Linked DNA regions of Homo sapiens: region 2 is linked to region 1. The links come from fine-mapping of genetic effects on gene expression. A gene starts in region 1. The other region holds a variant in brackets. All regions are shown on one strand. Distances are from middle to middle.

Region 1 (5,228 bases):
CCCCCGTACATCTTGACATTTCTACTTATTAGAAATTAAAGTATAAATTAAGAAGCTTACTCTCCCTTCTCAGAATCCCATAGCTTCTCATCTGTAACTTCCTCAAAGCACCTGCCACCTTCTCCTACTACCCTGGAGAGTTGCTGACAGATGCTAATTTAGTTTTACTAAATATATTACCTTACCGGAAAGGCTAAACATGCATAATAGATAATACCAGCTACCCTTTGTTGAAAGAGGCTTACAGATGGATGAGGAAACAGTGACCTGCCCAAGTAGCATTATCAAGACCAAAATCCACCTGACTCACAGCCCAGTGGTCTTTTAAGGACACGATCCTGCCTCTTCTACAGAACCATGTAAGACGCTGAAAAACTTTGGGAAATAAAAGGAGAAATGCAGGCAAATGTTTCTGTAATCCAGCCAGAGACTAAGAGTCCTTGTAGCAGGACAAGTGCAATCCTTTCCAACCTCACAAGGCAAACAGACGATAATAGTTGTCAAAAGACAAAAATTACAAGAAATTTAGTTTAAAATCTTAATTGGCTTATATTTGCATTCTAGAATCAGCCGATGCCTCGTTCTATAAAACAGAATGAGTGCTCTGATGAGCTGAGCTGAGGAGGCTGGCTTTATAGACAGAAAAGGGCTGAAGAAAGCAGAAACACAGAACAAAAAGCGAATTGGTTGTTTCAAAGTTATTTTCCTTGTAAAGGTTAAAGCAGAGAGGACTTCCTCATCATGCCAGCTAAAGCTGGTTTACTTGGGCATTTGGCTATATTAACTGTCTCTCTCTCCTAATTTCTAGGAAAGTCAAATAAGCAACTTAGTTTCAGCTTGGTGGCACGGAACTTCAGCATAAGTGACTCCATGTTGGGTTGATCTGTTGGGCATAGTGCAGGAGCTCAGTCCAAACCAATAGCCTCTTATAAATTTTATTTAACATAGTGATAACAACAATATGACCATGGTAATAATAGAGGCAGCTTACTATGTGCCTGGCACCATTCTAGGGACTTCACAATCTTTTTTTTAATGTCCTAAGTTCTTGAAGGCAAGGGGCTTTACAAATATTAACTACTGTAATTATTATAACGGTATTAAGTGGGTACTATTATTATCCCCACTTTTTAATGAGGCAAGGTTGAGAGGTCAACTAACTTGCCCCAGGCAAGCCCATGAGCACTTCCCACGTGCTAGAAACTAAGTCCAGAAATTGTACTAAGTACGATTAACTCGTTTAATACTCAAAGCAATCCCAAGATACCTGCTATCATTATCAGCACTTTCAGAGGGAACCAACAGAGCTCAAGGCAGCCTGAACCCGGAGCCCGCGCTTAGCCACCAGCTGCGTGGCTGCGGGCAGGGCGAGCTGACCCAGGCTGGGTGCGCGTGGGGCGGGGGCTGGGTAGAGATCTGTTCGCTCGAGTCCTCAGCAAGGGCCGCACTGGACGTCAGCTCTGAGTGTGACCAAGGCCCCCGGCTTCTCCAGATCTGGACGCCCCAGCCCGGGAGCTCCGTGCCAGCGAGCCTCTGAGCATCGCGGGCCGCTACTGCCCCCTGCCGCCGCCCGGGCCTTGCAGGGAGAGCTTGCCCGGAGCAGAGGCGCACGGCCACCGGGCCCCGGCAGCTCCCAGCCACGACCACCCAGAGACCCCGCAGAGGAAGCGGAAGCCGCCGCCCGGCACTTTCTGAATTCCCCTCTCCGCCCTCAGGTCCCTGCGGCCTCCCGTCACCTGCGTCACTTCTCGTGGGCTGGCGGATAGAGCCCGGCGGCTCCCCCACCCACTCGGCTCGCAGCCCACGCTCCCGACGCCCGAGTTGCCATGGTGAAGGACGCGGGAGAAACGCCGGAAGGGGCACGGACCCCAGGGAGAGCGCGGAGGCGGCCACGCGGGTCCTTCCTCCACCTGGGCCCAGGCACTTCCGGTCTCGTAGGCGTCGGGGAAAGCTCTTTGCGGACTTCGCTGCGGGCTTAGGACCTCCGACATGAAGGGAAGCGGGGGCTGGAGGACGCAGAGACTCTCCCTGGGCTGCTCGAAGGCCAAGGCTGTAACGCGGCTCCGGTCCTCGTTTTCCCGCCGTCGGTGCTGGCTGCCTGCAGTTGCCATGGTGACGCGGGCCGCGGGGCAGGGCAAGGTCCCAAGTCGCGTGCAGTTGCTCCTCGCCGTCGCCACTCTCCTGCCCCAGGCTGTGGGTAGCAGACGTCAAAAGAGATACACCAGAGCGCGACCCGGACTCAGGACCGCCCGGGTGGGGGCTGCTTCGGGCATTGGACACACTTCCCGGGCGCCTCGTGACCGCACACTCCTGGCCTCACACCTCGGGGTGGGTTTGCACGAGGGGGGGCCGAGCCCTGTCGCTGAGCGACACTGACCTTCTTAAGGCCACCTAGCTTTGGGTACAATGGATGTCTCATACTGAATTTTAATCAGCTTCTTACTGGAGGACATTAATGTTTGTTCAATCTTCGTTACTACAAAAAATACTAGAGTGGAGTGGTAATATCCTTGTATGTACGTGCACACGTGCAACTTTCTCTGTAAATTTCCAGAAGTAAAATTTCTATGTCAAAGGCCACATGCAATTTTAATTTTCATGAATATGACTAAATTGCTCTTCAAAGACACTAGCAAATTTACATCTCCACCAAAACTGGAGTCCGATAATTTTAATTAGGATTATATCAACAGCGATGAACTGTTGCAAAAGAATTTTCCAGAGCATTTTCCATTAAACCAATTCTTTGATCAGTTTTTTTTAATACAACATAGTTAAATAGTATCCATATCCATTTTTATTTTATGGAAATTGTCTTTACTGAGTGATTCTTTTACATATAAATTTCATGATAAAGATTTTACTTCTTTAAAATTTGTATGTCGAATTTTACTTTGGTTTCCATCATTGTGATATTTTGTATTTCATGCTTATTTTATTGAAAAAGAAAAAAAAAAGGGAACCCCGACATTCAGAAGCTAGCCTGGCATCACAGGTCCACCATGTTATCCTCCTATTGTACGTAGCGTCACAAAATAACAACCTCAGATATGGTTACAGAGAGCCTGATAAAGTGAGACATAGCAAATCTACTTTGAAATTTTGTCTAAGCACAGACAAAAACACAGTCACTGTGCCACTCACAAAATACCAAACACCCGTCTTGGAGAAAATGAGTGACTGCTACTTCTTTTTTTTTTCTCTCTCTTTTTTTTTTTTTTTTTTTTTGAGTCAGAGTCTCGCTCTGTCGCCCAGGCTGGAGTGCAGTGGCAGGATCTCGGCTCACTGCAAGCTCCGCCTCCCAGGTTCATGCCATTCTCCTGCCTCAGACTCCCAAGTAGCTGGGACTACAGGAGCCCGCCACCACGCCCAGCTAATTTTTTGTATTTTTAGTAGAGATGGGGTTTCACTGTGTTAGCCAGGATGGTCTCGATTTCCTGACCTCGTGATCTGCCTGCCTCAGCCTCCCAAAGTGCTGGGATTACAGGCGTGAGCCACCGTGCCCGGCCCCCTGCTAACTAATTACAGTTTTATCTTTCTTCTAGTTTGCCTTCTCTATAGATTAGATTTATTGAGATACCCAATCATGGAATTGGCTCCTGCTTCCTGACCACTTCCAATCTAGGGCGAATCCAACTTCCATAGGCCCTCCTTAAATTACCCATAAAAGCTCAAATCCAGTAATAGGTTCTTTATAACACCTCTTTTCGAAGATACCCCCCCATAGTTCTGTCATGGTATGTACTCTCCCTCAGTGCAACCCAACTTGTTCAACTATAGGTGTGTCCTGGTGGTCTTTGGCTAAAAGGCATTGACACTAGCAAGTTCTATTTTCTTTTCTTTCTGAGACACGGTCTCACCCTCTTGCCCAAGCTGGAGTGCAGTGGCGCCATCAGGGCTCACTGCAGCGTCAACCTTCAGGCTCAAGCAATCTTCCCACCTCAGCCTCCCAACTAGCTGGGACTACTGGCATGCACCACCACGCCTGGTTGATTTTCATTTTTGGAGACAGGCTTTCACTATGTTGCCCAGGCTGGTCTCGAACTCCTGGGCTCAAGGGATCTGCCTGCCTTGGCCTCCCAAAGTGCTGGGATTACAGGCATGAGCCACCATGCCCAGCCGCCATAGTTCCATTTCCTTTGGCAAAATTTTGTGGGTCCAAAAATCTGTCAATGGCAGTCCTCTACAAATGTTTAGTAAGGAGCAAATTTTACGTGGGCAGTCTGTTTTAGTTTGCATTGATTATTTCAACCAGATCTGATTTCCTTTGCTTCTTGTAATTTCCAGTGTTACCTTTAAGATGTGAGTCTTCTGAGTTCATAACAAATTTCACAGGTGCCATCTTAACCATTGTCAGTTTTATTTTGTATGATTTATAGACAAATCATACAAAATAAATGACTACCGGTGATAGTCATTATGAATCAGACAGAAGGTTGATAATTTTTTCATCTGCTTCTTGACTCAAGAACCTTCAGTAGGGCAGTGATGTAGGACCTGGATACGCAGCAAAGTAAAAATGATCTGCTTCAACCGGCAGGCTTGCTGTGTGCGCCATGCCCTTTACCAGGCACTGGGAACACAGGTCCTGCCATGAAAGTAATTCACAGTCTAATCAGAGCGATATAGGAGCTGGCTGGCCTCAACGTGCCAGATGGATGAGAATGAAAAGGGCCTTCCAAATGGAGGAAACAGCCAAATGCAACGAGTTTATTTATTCATTAAATATTTATCGAGTACTTACTTTGTGCCAGGAATTGGGCTGAGCATTGGGGATGCAGGAATGAGCATCTTCCATGTGGCCCCTGCTCTCCAGAAGCTCTTGGTCTGGTGGGGGAGATGCATATGAAACAATCGCTCCAGTGACTGCAATGTGTAATAACCACTGCAGAGAAAATCCAGAATTCTGTGGGAGCCTGGGACAATGGTAACCTGACAAGTGGGGGTCAAGGAGAGCTTCACTGAGAAACTCACTTTTAATCTGTGTGAAGGATGAGACAGACAAAGAGGAGGTTGTTCTTGGCAGAGGACACAATTCATGCCCTGAAGTGGGAAAAGACTTGACCTTTCTCATGGGATGAAAGCAAGCCAGTGTGGCTGGAATGAAGTGGGTTGGAGGAGGCTGTTGGAGTATGAATGAGGTGGACCGATATCTGATCCTGCAAGGGCTTGTCCACCATCCTAAGTTGTTTGCGTCTTAATTCAAAAGCAAGAAGTCAGGGAAGAGT
Region 2 (5,491 bases), 29 kb before region 1:
TTCTAGCTACTGAGGAGGCTGAGGTGGGAGGATTGCTGGAGCCCAGAAGGACGAGGCTACAATGAGTCGTGATTGTGCCACTACACACCAGCCTGGGTGACAGAATGAGACCACTGTCTCAAGAGGAAGGGAGGGAGGGAGGGAGAGAGGGGGGAAAGAAGGAAGGAAGGAAGGAAGGAAGGAAAGAAAGAAAGAAAGAAAGAAAGAAAGAAAGAAAGAAAGAAAGAAAGAAAGAAAGAAAGAAAGAAAGAGGAGTGAGCACATGGAAAGAACCTGGTTCCTGGATGGAATCATTCCTGAGCTGCCACCCCAGCCCTAGACTGCCTGTCCCCACACTTCTTGTTGCATGAAATAAAAGAATCCCTCTTTGGTTCAGCCAAATAGCAGCACTTCTCTTATATGCAGCTGAACACAATTGTGAATGGCTCATGGGCCTTGAAAAAGTCTTGGGATTTCAACAAACAGAGGCAGAAGACAGTGTCAGGAAACGCTCAAGACAGGGAAAGCTGGGGGCATGTTCTTGACAAAGCAGGCGGAGCAGATAGGGAGGTCAGAAGAGACGTTGTGATAGGGACAGAAGACCAGGGAGGCTCAGAGGATGGATGTGGATTTCATTCTGAAAGCAGGGAAGAATTGCTGGGGGAAGTGAGCAGTGCTGTTCTTGGGGAGTTGACGCTAGTTCCTTGGCACCGAGTGAGCCTTGGGCCCCCGGATGAGCAGGCAGGGCAGCTACTGAGGAGCCTGGAGTGAGAGTGGGTGGCCTATTTCATTCCAATCTGCTGTGCTTGTATTACATTCCTGTTAGCTTAGTATCTGCACAGAACACCAGGGACCGCAGTACCGCAAACTCTTTGGCATTCTGAAGGCCCTGCTCTCGCTGTGTCACTTTCCTCCCACTGGCAATTACCAGACTGGCAAACCGCAGCCAGCCGAACCTCGCCCTCTGGCTTCCAAAGCGTGCCCTGCTTTGACTGCAGCATGTTGTAAGCCACAAACATCTTCGCCAAGAAATGATTAGAGAAGGAAGCTATGAGAAAACAAATGTGTATAAAAATAAGACATGGTCTTGAGTCATTGATAGGAAAATGGAAGCGGAAAAGATATCCAACCCAGAATGGCCTTCAACAAGTTCAGGGACCCACAGGCAGCTACAAGGAAGGAAGTGTTCCCTGGTTTCGTCTTTTTGTGTGAACGGATTCTCTGATTTTGATACTTGAGCCTCAGAGGCAGGTGATGCAATGGGAAAATACAATATTGTTCCCAGTCTGCCCCTGACTACCTGTTTGAGCTCACAAAACAAAACAAAACACCTACCACTCTCTAGACTTTAATCTCCCCACCTACCCACCTTGACACTGAGAGGATTGGACCAGAGAAATCAAAGCCTCATCCTCCTCAAAAACGTTCCGGCCCCCATCTCCCTGCGCAGCCAGCAGTGTCCCGGCTCTCTGCCCATCTAACATACCAGGCCTCATGTTGCATGTGTTTGACTCTGTCCCGAGTCCCCAGCTAGTTCCTCGAGGACAAGAATCCTGTTTTCCCCGCAGTCAGTACACATAGCAGAAACTCAATACATCTTGACTGAATGGATTCGTGGGCTGCACAGTTGTTTCTTGATAAAGGTTTCAGGACGGAAGCGGAGATGCTGTCAGGGCAGGAAATGGCACGTCAGTGACACTCCCAGGCTCTAGGCAAATCAGCTGGAAGAGAGAATGGAGCTAAGTTCGTGCAATTTATCAACAACTATATTCCATAGAATTAACCCACCAGATGTTTTCACCTTCCGCGAAAAAAAAAAAAAAAAAAAGCGCTCTGGTCAAAAAAGATTAAGAAATTTACTAACCGAATCCCACGTTCCACTCATTCCTCTATGGACATGAGCCTAGAAAAGGCTCTAAGATATCTGTTTACTTTTATGTAACCTAGAATTTCCCAAACCTAGGGAACCTGTGTTCGGAAAATGCCCATAAACTGCATGAACGCAGTTTGAGAAGCACTGGTTTAGTGTGAATGGTTTCTACAGTGAAGTTTTTATTTACAAACCATGTTGGGGTCTGTGAAAAGCCCCTTTAGGGCCAAAAATCACTGGTCACTGCATAATCAAATAGACAGACAGATATAATAATTCAGATTATTATTATAATAATTATGTTATTATTATAATTATTATCTCATTCAGTTAACACCTATTCAACAGCAACTGATTGTCTAGTATGCATCCCACACAAGGGATATGAGGATAAATAAGACAGGGTCCTCTCTGCAAAAGAGCACGTCCCTAAAGGGGAGGAGAAAGTACAGAATATTGTGCTGAGTACTGTAAGCAGATGTTATGGGAAGGCAGAAGAAGGTACCTGGGAGAATCATGGAAACTAGACCTTGAGTAATAAAAATAATAACATTAACAACAATACCTTCATCAAGTGCTAACCACGTACCAAACACTGTTCTAAGCACTTTACGTATATTAACCCACTTA[T/A]ACCTCATAACAGTCTTACCAGTTACTTTCAGTACCTACATTTTACAATGAGATCATTGAGTCTCAGAGAGGCTAAGTAACTTGCCCGAGATCACACAGCTAGAAATATGACATGGTCAGGATTCAAACCCAGGCAGTCTGGCTCCAAAGTCCATACTTTTCAGCAGTAGGCTGTACTTACTGCCTTTTGGGATGAGTAGTAAGTATACCAGATGGAAAAGGACAGAAACCTTCCAGGCAAAGGGAATAGGAAAAATAGCAAGTAGTTCTACGTGCATCAAACGTGGACTCTCAAATCTATGCCAGTAGGCTCTGGCTGTATCCTGTGGACTTGGGTGCTCAGATCTTTCCACTGATGTCCTTCAGGCAAGAAAGGAAAACATGAGCCTTTAGGGGAATCTGGAAGTGTAGCTTGAAAAAACCTCCACAAATTTCTTTTGAAGTCTCCCACCACCATCTGAAAAATGCATGAGAATTCTATATTTGACACCATAATAGAATTGTGTTGACTCCATATAAAACATTTTAACCACTTAGCAGTTCAATTAACATTTTTACATAGAACTCCAGGAACACATGCCATTATTTCTCTTGAGGCCTCGGGTATCCCTGGCAACCTGCTTGCATCCATGACTCCCCAGCTGGAGGCCTAGCTGTAAACAGCAGGAAGTCATTTAAGATGCCTGAGCCAGGGACGGACCCAGCACATTTGCGTTTTCAAAAGGTGACTCTTCAGAATAGCAGGAACCTAGGAATAACTTAAATATCCATCAAGAGAAACTGGTTAAATAAATACGTTCATCCACTGGAATACTACAGTGCTCTAACAGAATGAGAGACCAGCATTTACAGATGAGAAAAGCTCTCTAAGGTAACATAGTCAATGAAAAGAGCCGAGTGCAGACCAGTGTGTACAGTGGATTCCCACTTGTGTGTGAGGTGTGGAAAGCATGTATGTTTTAAGGATATGCTTTTACAGGCAGAGAAAACTTGTAGAAGGAGAGACAACAAATGTCAACAGTAAGGATCTCTGGGGAAGGGAACCACGAGAGAACTTACATTTTTTGTTGTTTTTGAGACGGAGTCTCACTTTGCTACCCAGGCTGGAGTGCAGTGTAGCGATCTGGTCTCATAGAACCTCTCGGGTTCAAGTGATTCTCGTGCCTCAGCCTCCTGAGTAACTTGGACTACAGGCACCCACCACCACACTCAGCTAATTTTTGTATTTTTAGTAGAGATGGAGTTTTGTCATGTTGACCAGGCTAGTCTCAAACTCCTGATGTCAGGTGATCCGCCCCCCTTAGCCCCCCGAAGTGCTGTGATTACAGGCGTGAGCCACCACTCCCAGCTGAGAACTTACTTTTTATTGCATATCTTTCAGTACTGTTTGGATTTCTACCATGTGCATTTATTACTTTTTAAATAAAAGAAACAGTTTGGCCGGGCGCAGTGGCTCACGCCTGTAATCCCAGCACTTTGGGAGGCCGAGGCAGGCAGATCACCTGAGATCAGGAGTTCAAGGCCAGCCTGGCCAACGTGGTGAAATCCCATCTCTACTAAAAAAAATAATAATAATAATACGAAAATTAGCCGAGCGTGGTGCCACGCACCTGTAATCCCAGCTACTCGGGAGGCTGAGGCAGGAGAATCGCTTGAACCCAGGTGGCAGAGGTTGCAGTGAGCTGAGATCACGCCATTGCACTCTAGCCTGGGCAGCAAGAGTGAAACTCCGTCTAAAAAAAATAAATAAATAGTTTAGTGAATCTCAGAAAGTTAAAAAGTAGTTTTTAAGAAAAAGGAAAACTGAGAAAAAAACTGCTAGCTTTACAGCATAGATGATGAGTGGGGAAAAAAGAGTGATTCTAGTTGTCCCTTGGTATGTGCAGAGAGCGGGTGAAGGGAGGAATTGGTTCCAGGACCCCTATGGGTATCAAAATCCATGGATGCTCAAGTCCCTTGTATAAAATGGCATGGGATTTGCATACAATCTACACACAGCCTCTCCTGCATTTTAAATCATCTCTAGTTCACATATAATTCTTAATACAATGTAAACTATGTAAATAGTTGCTATACTATATTTTTAAAATTTGTATAATTTTTAATTGTATTGTTATTTAATTTTCTTTTTTAAAAAATACTTTTATATTAAAAATAATTTTTTATCTTAACCCAACATAGATATATTGTTATTTTTGAATGTGTTTTATTTTTCAAAGATTTTTGATCCAAAATTGGTTGAATCTGTGGGTGTGGTGTGGAACTTGCAGATACAGAGACCAATTATATAGAGAAAGACCCATTACTGGCAGGGCAAGTTAGCTCACATCTGTAATCCCAGCACTTTGGGAGGCCGAGGCAGGCGGATCACCTGAGGTCAGAGGTTCGAGACCAGCCTGGGTGACATGGTGAAAACCCGTCTCTATTAAAAATACAAAAAATTAGCCGGGCGTGGTGGCAGGTACCTGTAATCCCAGCTACTTGGTAGGCTGAGGCAGGAGAATCTCTTGAACCCTGCAGGCAGAGGTTGCAGTGAGCCGTAATCGCACCATTGCACTCCAGCCTGGGCAACAAGAACAAAACTCCTCTCCAAAAAAAAAAAAAAAAAAAGAGAAAGGCCTATTACAAAGCCACTGTCCTACAGCAAGATGACAAAATTGAACCAAGGAAGTGGCAGTAGGGCTAAGGAAGAAAACCGAGAGATATTTAAGCAGTAAAAACTCTAGGACTCGGCAACTCGTTAAGTTGCGGGGGGTATAACAGAGGTAGACGTTAAGAATAAATTCGGCAATAGGAGAGACGGGGGAGCTGTTCACTAGGAACATGTGTGCAAAAGAAACAGCCAGAATGTGGGGAGGATAATGAGTTCAGTGTTGGACATGCTAGGTTTGAAGTATCTTAGGACATTCAGATAGAGGTGACCTATTAGAAAAGTGAGTGTAAGGTTTTTGATCGTAAACAATTCCATTTACCTTATTGATGGCAATTTACTAAGTTCTAACAATGAAGAAT

Direction of the effects. Positions count from the first base shown, and alleles are read on the strand shown. Sizes are in standard deviations (SD) of each study's normalised expression.
For the expression in unexposed skin of the gene that starts at base 2,328 in region 1, allele A in region 2 goes with a higher level than allele T (small effect, 0.31 SD a copy in GTEx).

The links. PIP is the estimated chance that this variant, and not a neighbour inherited with it, causes the effect.
Region 2: its variant is the best candidate, but not a certain one, in a credible set for the expression of LINC03086 in unexposed skin (GTEx, PIP 0.60).

What each region holds. Positions count from the first base shown.
Region 1 is chr20:2,204,028-2,209,255 of GRCh38, reverse strand. LINC03086 (long intergenic non-protein coding RNA 3086) reads right to left here and starts at 2,328. Exons shown (of 2, transcript NR_161305.1): 1 at 1,737-2,328. RefSeq lists enhancers at 1,935-2,054, 1,737-2,237.
Region 2 is chr20:2,232,629-2,238,119 of GRCh38, reverse strand. It overlaps LOC124904860 (a long non-coding RNA gene), which reads right to left. Exons shown (of 2, transcript XR_007067501.1): 2 at 1,466-1,700. Among named protein-coding and RNA genes, the nearest start is that of LINC03086, 28 kb to the right of the region's middle. The variant T/A (reference allele first, on the strand shown) is at 2,480.